Regions from separate parts of the Homo sapiens genome. Here regions 1 and 2 are each linked to region 3. Evidence: fine-mapped expression QTL. A gene starts in region 3. Each other region holds a variant in brackets. All regions are shown on one strand. Distances are from middle to middle.

Region 1 (5,000 bases), 28 kb before region 3:
GGCCTCTGATGGAAAAGTTACTAGGACAGCATACAATTTGTATAAAACACATTGCGGCCTTCCTGGTGTACCTTCCAGTCTCTCAGTTCCCTGGGTCCCATTAGATCCCAGCCTGTTATTACCATATCATATCCATCATGGAAGAATACCTTGTACTTTTCCACCGAAATCACTGGATACCACAACACAACAAAAGGTAAGATCTTTTTTGAAATTAAAGGTTCATTAGGTTGTTTATTATTCGTCTATTTCACTGACTTTACCGTATTTCACCCTGATGTTCTCATTGTCATATTAATCACAGCACCATTCTAAAAGCTATATCCATAGGAAGGATAAAGTTGTATGCCATGGTGAGTCCAGTCTTCGTGGTAGTGGAACTTTTTTATTTTTGCAAGATTTATAAGTCAACTAAAGAAAACTCTCTTAGCTTGCACAGTGGGTGTATGGGTAAGGCATCCATGTAGTTAAACCCTTATATTCCTATGAAAAGCAAAGTTGTGGGGTTTTTTGTAATTTTTATTTATATATACTGGGTTTCATTTCATTAAGTATTTTAGGCAATTTGCGGAAGAGTACATGTAATAAAATTATGATATAATTAAACATTGTTAATTAGGATGAGGAAAAAGAAGTAATAGCAGTTTGTGAACAGAGTGCCTAATTAAAAATATACCTAAAGTATCAAGGACTAAATTGTGTCTTTCTAGGTATTATGTAACTCAGTATTTACTGAATTACAATTAACATTACTCTCTTTATAGAACCCTTGCCAAAAGTAACAGTTGAATGACATTATCTGAAGCTTATAAACCCATAGCTAGAGTTATTCTCTGCTATGTCACTCATTCTGTATATTGTGTAGGAAATTCCAGTTCGAGTTTAGTTGTTAGAAAAGTTTTGCACTGGGCTGGGCGCAGTGGCTCACACCTATAATCCCAGGACTTTGGGAGGCCAAGGCGGGTGGATCATTTGAGGTCAGCAGTTTGAGACCAGCCTGACCAACATGGTGAAACCCCATCTCTACCAAAAATTAGCCTGGCATCATGGTGCACACCTGTAATCATTTCCAGCTACTGGAGAGGCTGAGGCAGGAGAATCGCTTGAACTTGGGAGGCAGAGGTTGCAGTGACCCAAGATCACTCTACTGCACTCCAGCCTGGGCTACAGAACGAGACTCTGTCTCAAAAAAAGAAAAGGAAAGAAAAAAGTTTTGCTCTCTACAAATGACTCTGAATGTGTTCAGGACACGATCCAGTATATTTTCCTTACTTACTGCCAAAAGTCTTTGAGTCAGAATTATTGTCTGAGTCATTATCTTCTCATTATGGTTGCCCCAGAGCATCTATCACTTGTGTATTCTTCCTTTTCACTGTCTGTACTATACTGAATTAATCTGTAAATGTCCTCAAATCCTTATGAGAAACAGCTGGAATGCAAATACTGAGGATTTTTAAATAATTTAAAGTAAACAGGGTTGTTTGTTTATGTCTTTCAGTTCTCCACTCTAAGTTACTGTTTGGGAGTATCCTTTTAGAAATGAGAACTCCTTGTACATTCCTACTTAGCTTTGGCCAAGAAAATATAAATGTTAAGTTGGGACAAGTGAAAGAATGGAGAAAGTTACTTGTTAGCATTTTAAGCTATTTTATCTTCAGTTTTGGTTGTCTGTTTCCAGTTTACTAGAAGTAGTAACTTTTATAACCTAAGGAAAAATTTTCTTAAGTAACTCAAAAATAATTGAAGAACTATTTTTGAAGGATCTGTGTTTTTCTAGGAGAATGATTTCCTTTTAATTTAGAAACACTGATTATAGTCTCTCACCTATAACATGTAATTCTGTGTGGGAGTGGTTTATTCCTTTTTAGTGAAAATGAACAGTTTAATACCTTGGAATTGAACAACTTTAAGTGAAAGGAAAAATGTATTATGTGTGTGCAAGGTGTTTCTAAAAAAATGAGTAATATACTTTCCTTATTGATATAGACTGACACTAAAATAGTGTTGAATGCTTTATGCTTTGGAAATACTTTAATGATTTGATTTTTTTTAAATAATGTCTAGAATGTGCTTTAGTACAATAACACAATTTGTAGTCATGTATCACTTAACGACAGGGATACATTCTGAGAAATGCAGCACTAGGCAATTTTGTCTTTGTTTAAATACCATAAGCTTACTTACACAAACCTAGAGGGTGTAGTCTACTACACACTTAGGCCGTATGGTATAGCCTATTGCTGTTAGGTAGTCTACAGACCTGTACAGCATGTTGCTGTACTGAATACTGTATGCCGTTGTAATACACTGGTATTTGGATATCTAAACGTAGACAAGGTAATACATTGCACTGTTATGTTGTAACAGCTGTGACATCACTAGATGATAGAAATTTTTCAGCTCCATTATAATCTTTTGGGACCACTGTTGTATATGTAGTTCATTTTGACCAAAATGTGACTGTATTTGGAAAAGGAGAAATTCCATATGTTCACAATTTGGCCACATAATTACAACAGTTCAATTACATGTGTATCACGGAGTGTGCTTCATGCATTCAGTCCAGGAACAAATACTTAACGAGATTATCCAGGCCCAGGTTGTTGTAGAGCCCAGCATTAGGTACAGTGGACAATTAGATAACTAATAGTTGGTTTGATATATTTTTGAAAGCCAGTGGAAAGTTTTTGGTGATCTACTCACCTCCCCACAATCTAGCCCTGTGTTTGATAGGAATTACCCCATCTTCTTCCCTACCTCCTAGCTAGGCCATGGGATTGGGCCTTCTAGTCCCAACCAATCTAAGTGCAAATATGGATTCTAGTTTTAGCAGCAATGGTAAGATGACAGCTTTCAGGAAACCAGGGAAGTAAGACCTATATGAAATAGAAATCATCTGCATATTTTCATGGTGTAAAAATTTGTTCAAACGTTTCTGCCTCTAATGTGATCCCATAGTCACGAGTCCACTTGAACTCT[GA/A]TCTCATCCTTGTATAGTGCCTTTGGTACTAACCCTGAGAGATATGCCAGTAGAGCCTGCATCTGCCTCCCTACTGCATCAAGTAGAGATTGTATTTAAGGGTCCCATTTGCTTCCTGGGCTACTTTTGACTTCTGCTTCCAGTCTTTCTTGCAGCAGCTTCACACTTATCCCTTTTTTCTTTCTACATCTTCTGTAATAAACATTTATTTTACACATTCAGACACACACAGTCTTGCAGTGGAGGTTTTCAAAATGCTTGCTTTTCTCAAAAATTTTAACAGATAGAATTAGTGTGGTCAATATACCTTTATAGGAAATACCAGCTGAGTGAGGAGTGGTATAGATCATCCAAAAGTCGCAGCACTTTTCTAATCAGTATATTACAAAATTTCATCAGATTCACACAGACAAATCTGTACTCAATTTGTCCTTTCTGGTCAGGTAAATGTAAATAAAAAAAAATGCTTTTTAAAGGGACAGTAGATATTAAATAAAGGAAGCCAGAGTCCGAGCTTTTTCAGTGAGTCTGTAACCCCTTGGAGCAAATGCCAATAGTATTTCTGTTGGGCTAGCATTATGAGAGAGAGTGCTTGGAGTTACACTATCACCCTTCAGTCCCAGGCCTGAAATTGACTGGACGGGATATGAAGAAATAGAGGAGAACAAGGTGGCCAGGGAAAATAAAGGCAGATATGGGCAGGTTCTGTGGAAATAGTTTCAGGCTATACAGCTTTGGTCCTTCTCTGTGAGATTGGCCTTCTCCATTACTGTTTTTATAGATCACATCTTTAACATGACTACATAGCAAGGGATTCTGTATTAAGAATAGACCACCTTGGCTGGGCGCGGTGGCTCATGCCCATAATCCCAGCACTGTGGGAGGCTGAGGCGGGCAGATCACTTGAGGTCAGGAATTCCAGACCAGCCTAAACATGGTGAAACCCCATCTCTACTAATAATACAAAAGTTAGCCAGGCATGGTGACACACACCTGTAATCCCAGCTGCTCAGGAGTCTGGAGTCAGGAGAATCGCTTGAACCCAGGAGGTGGAGGTTGCAGTGAGCAGAGATCGCGCCAACTGTCCTCCAGCCTGGGTGACAGAGCGAGACTCTGTCTCAAAAGAAAAAAAATAGACCACCTCTCTTTGACTGTGTGAGCTAGAAAGTGAGGGTAAGGAAGGGTAGACTTGAAGGTAGAACCACAGCAAAGTTCCTTCCCCCATCCTCTGTATTCCCCCTTCCAGTTTTTTCTTCCCCTTTTCTTATTTCTTTCTTGCTCTCCTCTTTCAGCCCTTCAGGATTTCCCTGCTACTTGGGTTCTTGTCTTGAAACTTCCTTACACTTTTACTGTTTTTTTTTTACTTCCCTTTTTCTTAATCTTCATCTCTTTCCTCAATTTTCTTTCCTTATCTTCCCTACCCTTCTTATTATCTTTCTTGTTTGTCCATGTAATTTCTTCTCCCTGTTTACCACCTCTGACCTTCTTGTATTTCCTTTCGCTCCCTCCCTATTACTCCTTCCTTTTTCTTGTCCTTCAGTTTAATTATTTCAAACACATCACACATAAGGCCTGTCATTCCCTTGATTTCTAATTTATCTTTTCAACCTCTAATAAATTTAACACAGAGAATAGTTTCCCCATTCACTTTGCTCCCCATCTACTCAGATCTATCAACTTCTCTGATGGTTATTTGAAAGTTTAGTACTTAAAAATGTGTCAGATTAAAACTTGTTTAGAAACAGCCAGCTAGCTGGAGATGAAAAATATATAAGAGCTTATTTGCAAGGTGGTTAATACATGTATAAATACTACAGAGTTGACTGTATATAGGTATGTTGTAGATACATTAAGCTATTCTGTTCTCTGCTTCATCTCTTAGATTGGTGGAACGAGAATGCCTACACGCAGCCACAGGAATCCAGTTTCCATGGAAACCAAAAGCAGTTGCTTGCCTGCTCAGCAAGTTGAAACTGAAGGAGTGGCTCCACATAAAAGAAAAATAACTTGAGGACTGTAC
Region 2 (5,000 bases), 65 kb before region 3:
TATTGTATCATTACATTTTATTCACATAATAGTTTGAACTGACCCACTGACTTCCCTTGTGAGAGAATAGCATTTAAAGCGTTATCCTGGTCCCTAAAAGTCTGAATGGCCTTTTAAAACTCGGTCAAGTGAACTTGTGCTCATTATGTTTGTGGTAACCAGCCACAAAATGATAAATTTCAACTCTGAGTTCATTTTTGGATACTTCACTCATTCATGCAAATTTATTAGTAAGACCTGTATATCATCCCAGCTTGTACCCTACCATCATTCATTGAGCCTACCAGAAAATTAAAGTATACTACTTAAACAGGCCAGGCGTGGTGGCTCACACCTCTAATCCCAGCACTTTGGGAGTCCGAGGTGGGTGGATCACCTGAGGTCAGGAGTTCGAGACCAGCCTGGTCAGCATAGTGAAACCCCATCTCTACTAAAAATAGCAAAATTAGCCAGTCGTGGTGGTGGGCGCTTGTAATCCCAGCTACTCAGGAGACTGAGGCAGGAGAATCGCTTGAACCCGGGAGGTGGAGGTTTGCAGTGAGCTAAGATTGTGCCATTGCAGTCCAGCCTAGGTGACAGAGCGATACCCTGTCTCAAAAAAAAAAAAAAAAAAGAATAAAGTATACTACTTAAATAATAACTATATATATATACACACACACATATTTGTAGTAGAGTTTATAAATATCAGTCTAAATTTGTTTAAGCCTTTAAAGCTGGTCACTGTGAACAATAGTGTTAATATATTTAACACTACTGAACTCTACACTTAAAAAGGGATAAGGTGGTAAATTTTACCGTAGCTTAAAAAAACAAAACTAGCCAGTCTAAGTTGAAGGACAGCAGGAGTGTTACACTTTCACTGTTTTTTTAAAAAGTCCGGACACGGTGACTCACACCTATTGTTTCAGCCCTTTGGGAGGCCGAGGCAGAAGGATTGAGCCCAGTAATTTGAAACTAACCTGGGCAACATAATAAAATCCCATCTATACAAAAAGAATTATCTGGCATGGTGGCATGTGCCTGTAGTCCTAGTCACAGCTACTTGGGAGGCTTAGGTGGGAAGATCACTTAAGCCCAGGAGGTGGAGGCTGCAGTGAGCCTTGATTGTGCTGCTACACTCCAGCTTGGATGACAGAACGTGACCCTGTCTCAGAAAAAGGAAGGAAAAAAAAAACACTGTAAGGAAGAATTTTGCTGTTAATACGAACCAGAAGAATGGTTCTTCTAAATAAACGAATTTGATTTTTATTTTCTGTGAACCTAAATATATCCAAAGGGAATGTCATAATTTTCTATGTGGAAAAGGAGCTGGCAGCTGTTCTTGTTTTGATAGTGCCTTTTAAAAGACCAGAATGATGTTTTTAATACATAAGTCATAGTCCAGGCTGGAGTGCAGTGGCACAATCCTAGCTCACTGCAGCCTTGAATTCCTGGGTTCAAGTGATCCTCCCCAGCTCAGCCTCCTGAATAACAAGGACATGGGCATATGCCACTGCAGCTAACTTTTTTTAGATACAGGGCCTCCTGTGTTCACCAGGCTGGTCTCAAACTCCTGACCTCAAAAATCCTTCTGCGTCAGCCTCTCAGAGTGCTGGGATTACAGCCCATCTTTCTTAGGAAGAGTCTTTACAAAGTTCTACAGTGGCCTGCATGATCTCTCCCCTCCCTCCCATCCCCCATCCTCACTTTCTACAAATTGCCCTATCAGTTATTCTTCCCCCACCTGCGGACTGGCCTTTACATTTCTTCAATACTGCAAGCATAGTCCTGCCTTAAGTCCTTTGGCATTTGGGGTTTCTATTTTTCTCAATCTATTCCCCGGATTTCTGCGTGTAGTAGTGTCTTGATTCTTTTAGGTCTCTGTCTGTTCAGATGTCACCTATCAATGAGGGTGTCCCTGATTACCCTATGGAATGTAGTATGACCCTCACTTTTCCCTTTACCACATTTTATTTTTGCTTATTGTCCTTCCCCTCACTGTTTTTGTAAAACAGTGCCTTTTTGTAAGTGCTGTTTTATTCACTCGTGGTCTTCCAATGACTAGAACAGTGTATGGCACGCTTAAGTGCTCAGGTGCTCAATGTAGATATTTCTTAGGTGAATATAAAACTGTACTTTATTAACAAAGTACATTACTTGGTAGCTAATGATAAATGATAAACATCATCATGTTTTTTTCCATATTGATGTGGCAGCACATTTTCTCCAAGTTGTATTTTACATCCCCATCCCAAAGATTCACTGATATTTTTCTGAGATCTTTTAGTTTTAAAATTTTATGTTGTACAATGTCACGTACATATGGAAAAGTATATAGAACGAAAGAAAAAATAGATGCAGCTTAACAGATAATTATATAGTAAACATCTACGTAACTCTTGTCCAGGTCAAGAAATAAAATAATGCCAGTAATTCAGAAGCCCCCTGTGTAGTCCTCTTGTATAATAAATAACATTCTCCTTACTTGAGTGAATAATCAGTGTCCCAGCTTTGGTGGTGATAAGTTCTGTGCTTTTTGTGTGTGTATGGAGGGTGGTAGTTCTACTTCTCTTTTGCCTGATTTTGTTGGGATTTTTTTTTCTTTTTTTAAGAGACGGAGCTTCGCTCTTGTCGCCCAGGCTAGAGTGCAATGGCACGATCTCAGCCCACTGCAACCTCTGCCTCCAGGGTTCAAGCTGTTCTGCTTCCGCCTTCCAAGTAGCTGGGATTACAGGCTCCTGCCACCACGCCCAGCTAATTTTTGTGTTTTTAGTAGAAATGGGGTTTCACCGTATTGGCCAGGCTGGTCTCGAACTCCTGACCTCAGGCGATTTACCTGCCTCGGCCTCCCAAAGTGCTGGTTTATAGGCGTGAGCCACCGTGCTTGGCCCTTTTTGCCTGATTTTGAATTTTATGGGAACAGAATCCTTTTGGGCCTTCCTTCTTTCATTCAGTATTGTGCTTTTTGATTCTTAGGTTGT[A/G]TGAGTTGTAGTTCATTCATTTTCATTTCTGTCCATTTTTCCATTATATTAATAAATTACAATTTATCCTGTTGATCGGAACTTGGGTTGTTTCCATTTGGGAGCTTATTCTAAGCAGTACTCTTAAGAAAATTCTCATACATTTCTTTTGGTACACATACGCACACGTTTCTGTTCGATATACAGATGCTTCTTGACTCACGATAGAGTTACATCTCAGTAAACCTGTAATGAATTAAAGATGCATACACCTCATCTACCAAATATCATAGTGTATTTTATCCTACTCTACATATGCTCACAATACTTATATTTACTTACAATTAGGCATAATCATCTAACACAAAGCCTATTTTATAATAAATTATTGAGTGTCTTGTAATTTATTGAATGCTGTACGTTGTGACAAAATTGCAATGGTTTGGCACCATCATAAATTTGGAAAATCATTTAGTGGAACCTTCATAAGTTGGGAACTGTTTGTATACCTATAAGTGGAATTATTCGGTCATAGAGTATGCGTATCTTCAACTTGAGTAGATTTGCAAATGGTTTTCCAAAGTGGCTATACCAGGTTATATCAATTTACATTCTAACCAGCAGTGTTTAAGAGTTCTGTTGCTCCACATCTCAGACATATATATATATGTATATAGAGGGAGAGAGAGAGGGAGAGCGAGAGCCAGAGAGAGCGCATGTTTTCATATGTTCCTGCTCACTTTTTCTTGCAGAATGACTGTTCATTTTTTCTAATTGATATGTAAGATTTCTTTGTATATTCCAAATACAAAAACTTTATGGGCTATGTATGTTGCAGTTTTTCTCCTTTTTCTGTTTTGAATTTTATCTTTTTCTATTGACAAGTTAAAATTGTATATATTTATTTTGTACTGTATGTTTTTTAAATATGTATACATTGTGGAAAGGCCAAACCGGACTAATTAACATATGCATTACCTCACAAACCTGTTTTTTTGTTGTGAGAACACTTAAAATCTACTCTCTTAGCAGTTTTCAAGAACACAATACATTGTAATTAACTATCATCACCATGTTTTATAATTGATCTCTTGAATTTTTCCTCCTGACTGAAATTTTATGTCAACTAACATTTTCCCCACCACCCCAGCTGTTAATGCTCACTGCCTAGATGTATTCATTCACTGTGGTTTGCACAGTTGTAATATTCTGATTGCATCATTTATTCATTGGAATACTTTTTAAAAGATATGCTTTCCCTTACTTACTATTTGGTTTCCCAGTTCATGTAGCTTACCATGTAGCAGAATAAATACTAGATTCTTTCCTTTTAAATACCACTTTTAAAAAAATTAGTTCCTTCTTATTCTCCAATGTTGGTGTCTTTTCTTTTTTTAAAATGTTATTATTAAATCATGGAGTTAAATATATATGTGTTTCTGTCCACTACGATTATTATCCTTTGTAAGCCTCAAATAGTATTAACTCACTGAGAGGCTCTTCCTACTGGCTTTTCAGTCAGTCTGGTAGTCTTTGAGGCTCATTTTGTACACTTCCTGCCCTGGCCCTGGAATCAGCCATTTTCAAGAGCCCTTGTTTCTTTTAGTGTGAAATGATATTTCAAGACTACAATCTGGGCACTATGGATGCTCCTGGGTTGATCATTGTTTTGAGAATAATTCAGTGGATAGAACTAGGAAATAGATTTAAAGGAAAAATACCTCATATGTCTCATTTGCTTTATCCCACATTACACTCACAACAGCCTCAAAATAACAATATTAATACTAGTGATCAATACGATTACTGAAAACAGTTGAAATTATTTTTCTTATGCTCTTCTCATTCTCCCCCACATTTTTTAAAAGATTGCACTGTGTTTTTATTGTTAGAGCATCATATAGTAGCCATTAAATACTAAAGCCTCCCTTTTAAATCCACATTTAATTTTTAAAACAATTTTATTAAGGTATAATTTACATATAAAAATTACTCATTTTAAGTGCATTTCTTTTGTGAAATGTCTATTGAAGTATTTTGCTGATTTTTTAATTTGCT
Region 3 (8,736 bases):
GGCTTGATGGATGAGGCAAAGTTCACCACTGAGGAAAGCAGGAAAGGGCATTCCAGCAGGAAAACAGGATGGAGGAAGGTACAAAGCATGAATGAGCCTGGCCTGTCCAGCAGTGGCACATGGAGCGGTGAAGAGTGAAGATGTGGGGGAATGAGGCTGCCCAGGTAGGTCAGAGCCCTGCTGGGAAGAGTTTCTGGAGAGGGGTCATATAATCAGAATTATGTCTCAGAAAGAGAATTCTGGCTGTCTCAGAGAATGAACTGAGGTCAAAAATGTCTGTTACAGCTGAGAAAGAGACATTGAAGTCACTGCAGATTTTTCCCTGGAAATGCCTCCAAACAAAATAGACATTGTGGTTTGTCCATACCAAGAGTACTCTGTGTGGTTTGGGTCATGACACGTGAATTCAACAAGGATTTATTGAGGTCTTACTATGCGTTCAGCAAGGCCAGCTGCTGCAAAGACTAAAAAAGCCAATGAAATAACTATGGCTTTTTTCATCACCTACAATATACCAGACATTCTTTATACATTTTTTAATCTTTTTTTTTTTTTTTGAGACGGAGTCTCACTCTGTTGCCAGGCTGGAATGCAGTGGCATAATCCTGGCTCACTGCAACCTCCGCCTCCCAGGTTCAAGCGATTCTCCTCCCTCAGCCTTCTGAGTAGCTGAGATTACAGGCACGCGCTACCAAGCCCAGCTAATTTTTGTATTTTTAGTAGAGACAGGGTTTCACCATGTTGGCCAGGATGGTCTGAATCTCTTGACCTTGTGATCCACCCGCCTTGGCCTTCCGAAGTGCTGGGATTACAGGTGTGAGCCACCACGCCCGGCAAAAACTTCTTTTTAAAGACTCCAAGAAAGATTTAATGTGGTACTTCGAAGACGATCTCAGGGCTTCTAAGAATCTTAAGTGCATTGTCCCACTGCAGCCTGACATGTAAAGTAGAGAGAGATCTATTTAAAAAAAAAAAAATGAATGTGAATCTTGGAACATGGAATTAAACCTCAGCAAGATTTATATAAATAAAGTTTTTGAGAAAATTGTATATAAATCTTGGAGCATGGTGTGAACCTTAATAAGATATGGAAAATCTACATGGTTTTTAAGATACTTGTATTAATGAAACAACTGCCAGCTTAAACCAGAAAAAGTGCAAAATGAAAAGAAGTTTCTAGACCTTTCAGTTTCTCCTGGCATGAATGAAGCAGACTGAGAGAACTGCTCAGCTACAAATATGGGCCATTCTTTTTTTTTTTTTTTTTCTTGAGACGGAGTCTCGCTCTGTCACCCATGCTGGAGTGCAGTGGTGCGATCTCAGCTCACTGCAACCTCCCCCTCCTGGGTTCAAGCCATTCTCCTGCTGCTCAGCCTCCCGAGTAGCTGGGACTACAGGCGCCCGCCACCACGCCCAGCTTAATTTTTTGTATTTTTAGTAGAAATGAGGTTTCACCATGTTGGTCAGGCTGGTCTTGATCTCCTGACCTCATGACCTGCCCTCCTCAGCCTCCCAAAGTGCTGGGATTACAGGCGTGAGCCACCATGCCTGGCCTGGGCCATTCTTAAGAAAAGGAAATACATCTTAAAGGGAGGAGCCTAGATATCAGAGGGCAAAACCAAAAACTTGAGTAGGGCAATGGATTAAAACAAGGATCAGCAAACTACAGCCCATAGGGCAAATCCAGCCTATTGCTTGTTTTTGCACAGCCTGTGAGCCAAGAGGCCTGGCAGCTTCAGCTTTTGCTTCTAGAAGGCTGGCTGCCATGACTACCGTGGTGTAGCAAAAGAGGAGAACCTGGAGGATGTAAGACCAAGGAAGAGAAAGGCCCAGCCTGCTCTTTGTCATTCTAGCAATCCCAGCTCAGGCGCCAGACGAATGAAGCTGCTTTCAATCTTCCAACCCCAACTAAGCTACCCAACCCAACATGCTGTGGAGGAGCACCAAGCTGTCCCCACTGGGTGTCCTGCTTAAATTGCAGAATTACAAGCAAGTAAATGGTTATGTTTAACCACTAAGTTTATGGGGATAATTTGTTATACTGCAAAGGTAACTGATACGAGGGCCTTGGGTGCATTATTTAATCCCTGGACTGGGCAGGAGATTTTATTTGGACTCCAATTTCTTCATATGTAAAAATCAAGAGCCGGGTATAGTAATTCACGCCTGTAATCCTAGAACTTTGGGAGGCTAAGGTAGGCAGATCACTTGAGCCCAGAAGTTCGGGACCAGCCTGAGCAGCATAGCAAGACTTTGTCGTCTCTACAAATAATAGAAAAATTAGCCAGGCTTGGTGGCGTGGGCCTGTGGTCCCAGCTACTCAAGAGGCTGAGAGGAGAGGATTTCTTGAGCCTCCGCAGTCAAGGCTGCGGTGAGCCCTAATCATGCCATGCGTTCCAGCCTGGGTGACAGTGTGAGATCTCAACTAAAAGATATAAGAATAATAATAGTAAAAATCAAGGATAGGGCAATTTAATCTCTAGGGTCCCTCCCTGCTTTAACATTCTATTATTCAGTGAATAATTGTATTTTATCATTCTATCACATTTAGTGAGTGCCTATCATTGCTAGCTAGGCGCTAGTAGGTGTTGAGTGCAGCAGATGAAGTGTGAACAAAACAAAGTCAAGCACTTAGAGAGCAATATGGACAACAGCAGACAATCTGAGGGCTGATGTAAACATTCTCCTCAACCAGGGGGGAAAATAGAGTCTTCTGACTAATAAAAGATCTTTTATACTGGAAGAACTGGCCTCACATTCCTCAGAAATAGCAAACTATGACTTCTAATAGCTTCATTTTTATGATAACATCAGTGCACATTTCTTTAGCATGATGCAAAGACTGGTGATTGTACAAATCTATAGAAGTTAGAATTTGTGGCATGCCCAAGATGAGCACAAAACTCTTTTGGACATTTGATGGCTTTTATATATTCCACATGATTTGAATTAAATTTTATCTTCTGTAAAGGGCCTATCACAGCACGATTAGGAGTAAGAGACTGTGGAACCTATCTTGAGATACACAGAAGGGAGGCTGAATCGTGCCCAATATTACTGTCTGCCTGTGTTCCCCTAACCTTCCAAAATGTTCACACAAAGTAAGCAGATAAACATTGTTTCTGACTTTGAAGCTTTCAGGCTAAATTGAAGAGCTATAAATGTAAATCAGCAATTGTACCCAAAGTGTTGCTTGATTTTCTATTTGGCTCTGTGGTAGGGCCCATCGCGTATAATTCCTCGTGAAAGCGCTGGGTAACAGAAAGCTTTGGGCGGGTTAAAAGACCTCAGCTGTGGCCGACTTTGCCTGTGTCACTCTATGCGAGTGGGCAGAGCACTGAATGTCTGTTGGCCTTGCTATCATTCTCTGATTCCCAGGAGTGAATTGACGCTCAAATGGAAAGTAAAAATGGATGTTAAGATAAATGGGAGATTGAAACACAGAATCATCAAAACCAGGAAAAAGAGCTGCAGGAAGTAGTGTGCAAGGAGGGGTTTAAAAAACGCAGCCAGAGATCCTCGGGATTCTCAGCGTCGCTTTCCTGTTAGTTTGAGGTTCGAATACAGTATTTGCGTCGTCTCACATACAACAAATAGGTGTCTGCCTGCACGTTGCCAACGTGACTCTTGGAAGAAAAGCGAGAAGCAGCAAAACCGAGCAAGGGAGTTGGCTAAACGGCTGCAAGAAACACACACACACACACACACACACACACACACACGGAAGAAAAGCGAGAAACAGCAAAACCGAGCAAGAGAGTTGGCTAAACGGCTGCAAGAAACACACACACACACACACACACACGGAAGAAAAGTGAGAAACAGCAAAACCGAGCAAGGGAGTTGGCTAACTGGCTGCAAGAAACTCTCTATCTCACTCTCTCTCTCTCTCTCTGTGCTGCAAGAAACTCTCTCTCTCTCTCTCTCTCTCTCTCTCTCGGAAGAAAAGCGAGTAACAGCAACACCGAGCAAGGGAGTTGGCTAAACGGCTGCAAGAAACACACACACACACACACACACACCACACACGCACACACACACCCCAGCAGTCATGAAAGAAGGAGAGGAAAGTTCTTTGTTGAAACTCCGGGTTCGAAACACACACACACACACACACACACACACACACACACACACACACACACACACGAAACTCCGGGTTCAAAGCTATGGGCCCCACCCCGCTCAGGACTGCCTGCTACGAGGCCGCGCAGAGATGCCCCAGGCGCGGAGAGAAGCGGAGCACAGCCGTGCTAGGGACAGGGGCGCCACCCTGGGCGGGACTGAGGTGGGATCCTGGCTCCCGGCTTTGGCCTCCCAGCCCAGGCTCGGGGCTTCCTGGCCCTCGGAGGCCGGGGCGGGCCAGGCTTTGCAGCACAGGGCGAATCTCCCTCCCTCCCCGGGCGCCCCCCGGGAACTGGCGGCCAGAGGTTAAGCTGACATGTTTGCAGACGGTAATGGGGCGCTGGATGCCAACAGCCCCAGCTCAGGGGAGTCCAGATTTATGTTTCTTGGAACAATTCTTTCCTCCATTGCATTAACGCCAAAAAAAAAAAAAAAAAAAAAAAAACACTTAATCAAGCCCAGAGTCTACTACTAAAGTCTTGTTAATTTATTAACCCAAGCCGAGGCTGAGAGCTCGACGTGGCACTTAAGAAGTAAAATGAGGAAAGGAGGAAGAAACGGGGTCCCTGTGGGCCTCGGGGCAGCCTCGGCCGGGCTTTCTCGGAGGGCAGGGCCAGGGGCGCTGGGGCCGCTCCCGCGTGGCGCGGCTCGGGAGCGTTCCAGGGCGCGGTCCCTGCGGGCCGGCGGGCCGGGGTGAGTCACCCCTGACTTGGGGTGGGAGCGGGCCGTGTAAGGGGGAGGCGGGGCGGGGCGGGGCGGGCCTCGCCTCGCCTAGGGAGGATGTGGCGGGTATAAAAGCCCCACCCAGGCCAGCCGGCTCTGCTCAGCATTTGGGGACGCTCTCAGCTCTCGGCGCACGGCCCAGGTAAGCGGGGCGCGCCCTGCCCGCCCGCGATGGGCCGCCAGCTAGCGGGGTGTGGAGACGCTGGGAAGAAGGGTACGGCCTGGCAGGGAGGCCCCGGCAACTGGCCCCGGAGGCCGTCGGGGGCAGGGGGCTGAAGGGACGGCCGGCACTGGAGAGTCTTTGGGGAGGGGGCTCAGGGACAAGGTGTTTGGGGCAGGGGTGAGGGGCCACCGGCCCTCGGGCCGGGAGGGTGCAGGGCAGAGGTGGTGGGGGGTCGGGCTTCTCTAAGAAGCCCTAGCGGGAGCGGGGCGAGGCGGCGTGGGGAGAGGGGCGGAGGGAGGCCCCGCATTCCAGACGCGCCAGGCGCCGCCGAGGCAGGGCGTGGCCGCCCAGGGAGCCGCAGGTCCCCGGCGCAGCAGTAGCAAGTGGGCTTTCCACTGCCCTCTAGAAAGTGCCCCCCATCTGCTCTAAGTTACTGTACTCGAAACAAACGCGCGCTTGTGGAGTTGAACCGACCAGCAGGAGGGAAGTAGCGGGGGAAGACGAGAGGGGGGAGTGTGAGTAGGCACCCCTCAGCCCCCCATAAAAGAAGACATTAAAACGTCAGTTATTCCCCTTGCTCTAGGTTATCTTGTAGCATAGCAACTTCGGATTTCACTCTACCCGGAGAGTTTCCCGCTTGGTTGAACACATTGGCCTCAGGAAGGTAGTGTCCCCCATGATTCTGTGGGGAGGGTTGTCCTGTTACTCGCCATGATGTGACAATGAGTCAGGAACTGAGAGTAGAGAGAAGGGCGTGGCCCCGGGGCCTCTCCCTTCTGGCCGCTCTGTGCAGCTGGCCCCACTGCTGGTGTGGAGGGCTTGGGTTCCATCAGCCGGCTGTTGAGAAGAAGGAGGGGAACACAGATAAGTTTCCTCATCTGGGAAGGTGGCTTAAGGATGCCTATTCTTACCACCACCCAGAGTTATTGGAGATTTCAAAAAACACAGTCATTAGGTAATAAATGTGTAAAGTACACAAAAAACAAAGTGCTGTGCAAATGCAAAGTGTCATTTTTGTAGTAAGATTGCCGTTTTAAAGCTGTGGGTGTTCTGAGTGCGTGTGTAAAAGAGCAGTGGCCTCATGGGTGCACGCTGGGCCATTACCAAGAACCTTAAGTTGTTGGTGTGCAAAGGCCTGGGCCCCAGACTGTACTGATGGATTCTGTTCACACGTGTGTGCTACTGTGCCTGTCTGGAACTTGGTGACTTGGAATGCAGAATGCACTTTCCCACTGAAACAGTGTTGCAGAAGGTGCTGACGTTCCCAGGCTAGCCCTGAAAGACCTTTTTAACATGCACTGCCTGATTATGGGATTGGTGGTGGGGAGGTGGAGGGTAGTGAGGGGCAATGTGTGTGTAGGAAGACTAAATCACTGAAATATTTTTCTGGAACTTTTTTTAGCTTTAAGGTTGACACTGAGTAAATTATTTTAATTGGAAAATTATGTCTTTGCCCCTGTTCCACTTTCTTTTTTCCACCTTCCACCTCCTTAGAGACGCTCTTCTGGCTCTTCCGTGACGCATTACAACAGCCATCCAGGCCGGTCCAGTTACGCTGCATTCCTTCCTCCTTCCCATTTCGGCGGACCTGCATCCAGCTAGAGACTAGCAGATTGAATCGATATTCATTAAGTTAGGAATGGTTGGTGGTCCTAAGAGCCTCAGCAACCGAGAGGAGTCTTGTTATTTAAAAAACAACGATACTGGGCGTGGTCGTGGGCCTGTAGTCCCAGCTGCTCAAGCTAGTGGATCTCTTGAGTCCAAGGCCAATGTGAGCAACATAGCAAGACCCAGTCTCAAAAAATAAATACATAATAATAATAAAAAACCCTCGTTCACCTAAACAGATCTATAATTTATAGAATGTAAAGCAGCAATATTCAGGCAATATTAAGGAAGATTTTTGGTAAGACTGGGGCAGCAGAGGTGCCCTTGATGGGCAAGGGCCAGGAGTGTTAACACAGTCCTGCTTAGTAATTTCTTCCCTTCTTCCAAGTCTGTCGATTATCTAAAGGTCAAGGGTTTGTCCAAAAATGTCCCTTGCATCTGCAGTGGAAGGATGTGACATGTATGTGCATTTTTACAATTGGAGGTTTGTGATTTGGAGACCGTTTAGATTTTGTAATTTCCCGCAGTGCCAACTAGACTGCCTGTGGTAAATGCCCAGGAAATATTGCTGACTCACTGACTTTGATTAGGAGCTCAGTCTTGCACTGGAGTCTCAATATTTAGCATCTTGTGTCTTTGAGCTATTAAACTATGGTATTGATTGACATTAGGCTCGCAGTCATGGCCGTTAGTTTCCTGGCTAATTTCTGATTTAAGTAGTTTTCCTGGCAAAGTAGATGTGCTTCTATAATTGCTATTGATTTTGAGGGCTGTAGGCTCTTCCTACACCACTGGGCCTAGAATCTGGCACTAATGCATTGTCTGGAGCCTTTGTTCTCACCCTTCGCTTGTGCAGAGCCTGGAGCCTGCGGAGACATTTTTCATTAAAGGAGAGCGGGATTGTCACAAAAGGAGTCTCAGGCTCTAGTGGGCTGCTTTAAACAACCATTTATTCCACAAAATATTAATTACCTACTGTGTTCCACTCATAGTTATGAGCACTAGGGATACAGCAGTGAACAAAACAGACCCCCGCCAAAAATAAAATCCCTGCTCTTTAGACCTTAAATCTGGCGGAGAGAGAAGGAAAAGAGACAAAATAAGTGAATTGTTGGATTTTAAACTTTATATTTTCCCAAATTAATACTAGTTTCTAAACTTGGTGGGAGTTCATTTCCCCTTTAATCCAGCTGTTCCACAGACCTAAACTTCACATTTTACCTACCTCGGGGAAGTTTTGCTTAAAATTATGGTGTCTTAAGCTGCCTTCCAGATTCAATTGTGAGAATTAAATAGAAATGGAATGTTCCTCTTTTTTTTCACATGAGAATCCTCTTCACTTGCCCTGGTGCCACACCCTATTCTAGTTGTAGGCCACACCAGAGGAAATTCCAGTCCTTCAAAAAAATTCTTTCCACCCATTCACTGCCTGGTATCTTTTTTCTTCTGCTGTTGCCAGAGGCAGTCCTCATCTACTTTCTCCAGGGACAGGTCAGCAGTAGGGGTCAGGAGATGCCCATATTTGTCCTTCTGGGTGGTTCTACCAGATGACTTCCAAATCTCCCTTCTAGGGTACACCCTGAAGCTGTTTTTTTTTTTCTTTTTTTTTTCTTTTGAGATGGAGCCTGGCTCTGTCACCCAGCCTGGAGTGTAGTCGCACGATCTCTCCTCACTGTAGCCTCCGCCTCCCAGGTTCAAGTGATTCTCCAGCCTCACCCTCCCGAGTAGCTGGGATTACAGGTGCCTACCACCATGCCGGGCTAATCTTTGTATTTTTAGTAGAGACAGGGTTTCATCATGTTGGCCAGGCTGGTCTGGAACTGTTGAGCTCAAGTGATCCGCCTGTCTCGGCTTCCCAAACTGCTGGGATTACAGGCGTGAGCCACTATGCCTGGCCCACCCTGAAGCTTTTAATCCAGCTGAGCTCAACTGGACAGGTCGGTAGCACCCAAGTGGCCTGAGTTTTACCCCAGGTGTGGTGTAGAAATTTCTTATTCTAGGGAGTGACTGTGTTATGGAGCCCTTTGTCCATGTCCTTTGTCTCCCTGCCACACCCAGGCTATACACTCACAGCTCAGAGGAAATCAGAGTCCTAAGGCCACTCGTACATCCTGCCT

Evidence for each region. PIP is the estimated chance that this variant, and not a neighbour inherited with it, causes the effect. A credible set is the group of variants that fine-mapping cannot tell apart.
Region 1: its variant is the best candidate, but not a certain one, in a credible set for the expression of ANXA2 in whole blood (INTERVAL, PIP 0.89).
Region 2: its variant is the best candidate, but not a certain one, in a credible set for the expression of ANXA2 in whole blood (TOPMed, PIP 0.70).

The regions. Positions count from the first base shown.
Region 1 is chr15:60,423,625-60,428,624 of GRCh38, reverse strand. It overlaps ICE2 (interactor of little elongation complex ELL subunit 2), which reads left to right. Exons shown (of 16, transcript NM_024611.6): 15 at 1-196; 16 at 4,863-5,000. The coding sequence ends at 4,991. Among named protein-coding and RNA genes, the nearest start is that of ANXA2, 28 kb to the right of the region's middle. The variant GA/A (reference allele first, on the strand shown) is at 2,980.
Region 2 is chr15:60,461,364-60,466,363 of GRCh38, reverse strand. The region is part of intron 5 of ICE2 (interactor of little elongation complex ELL subunit 2); the gene reads left to right. Among named protein-coding and RNA genes, the nearest start is that of ICE2, 15 kb to the left of the region's middle. The variant A/G (reference allele first, on the strand shown) is at 2,964.
Region 3 is chr15:60,394,197-60,402,932 of GRCh38, reverse strand. ANXA2 (annexin A2) reads left to right here and starts at 4,947. Exons shown (of 13, transcript NM_004039.3): 1 at 4,947-4,990. RefSeq lists silencers at 4,215-4,524, 4,645-5,184, 5,255-5,394 and enhancers at 5,555-5,744, 5,765-5,814, 5,875-5,924, 5,418-6,009, 6,010-6,601.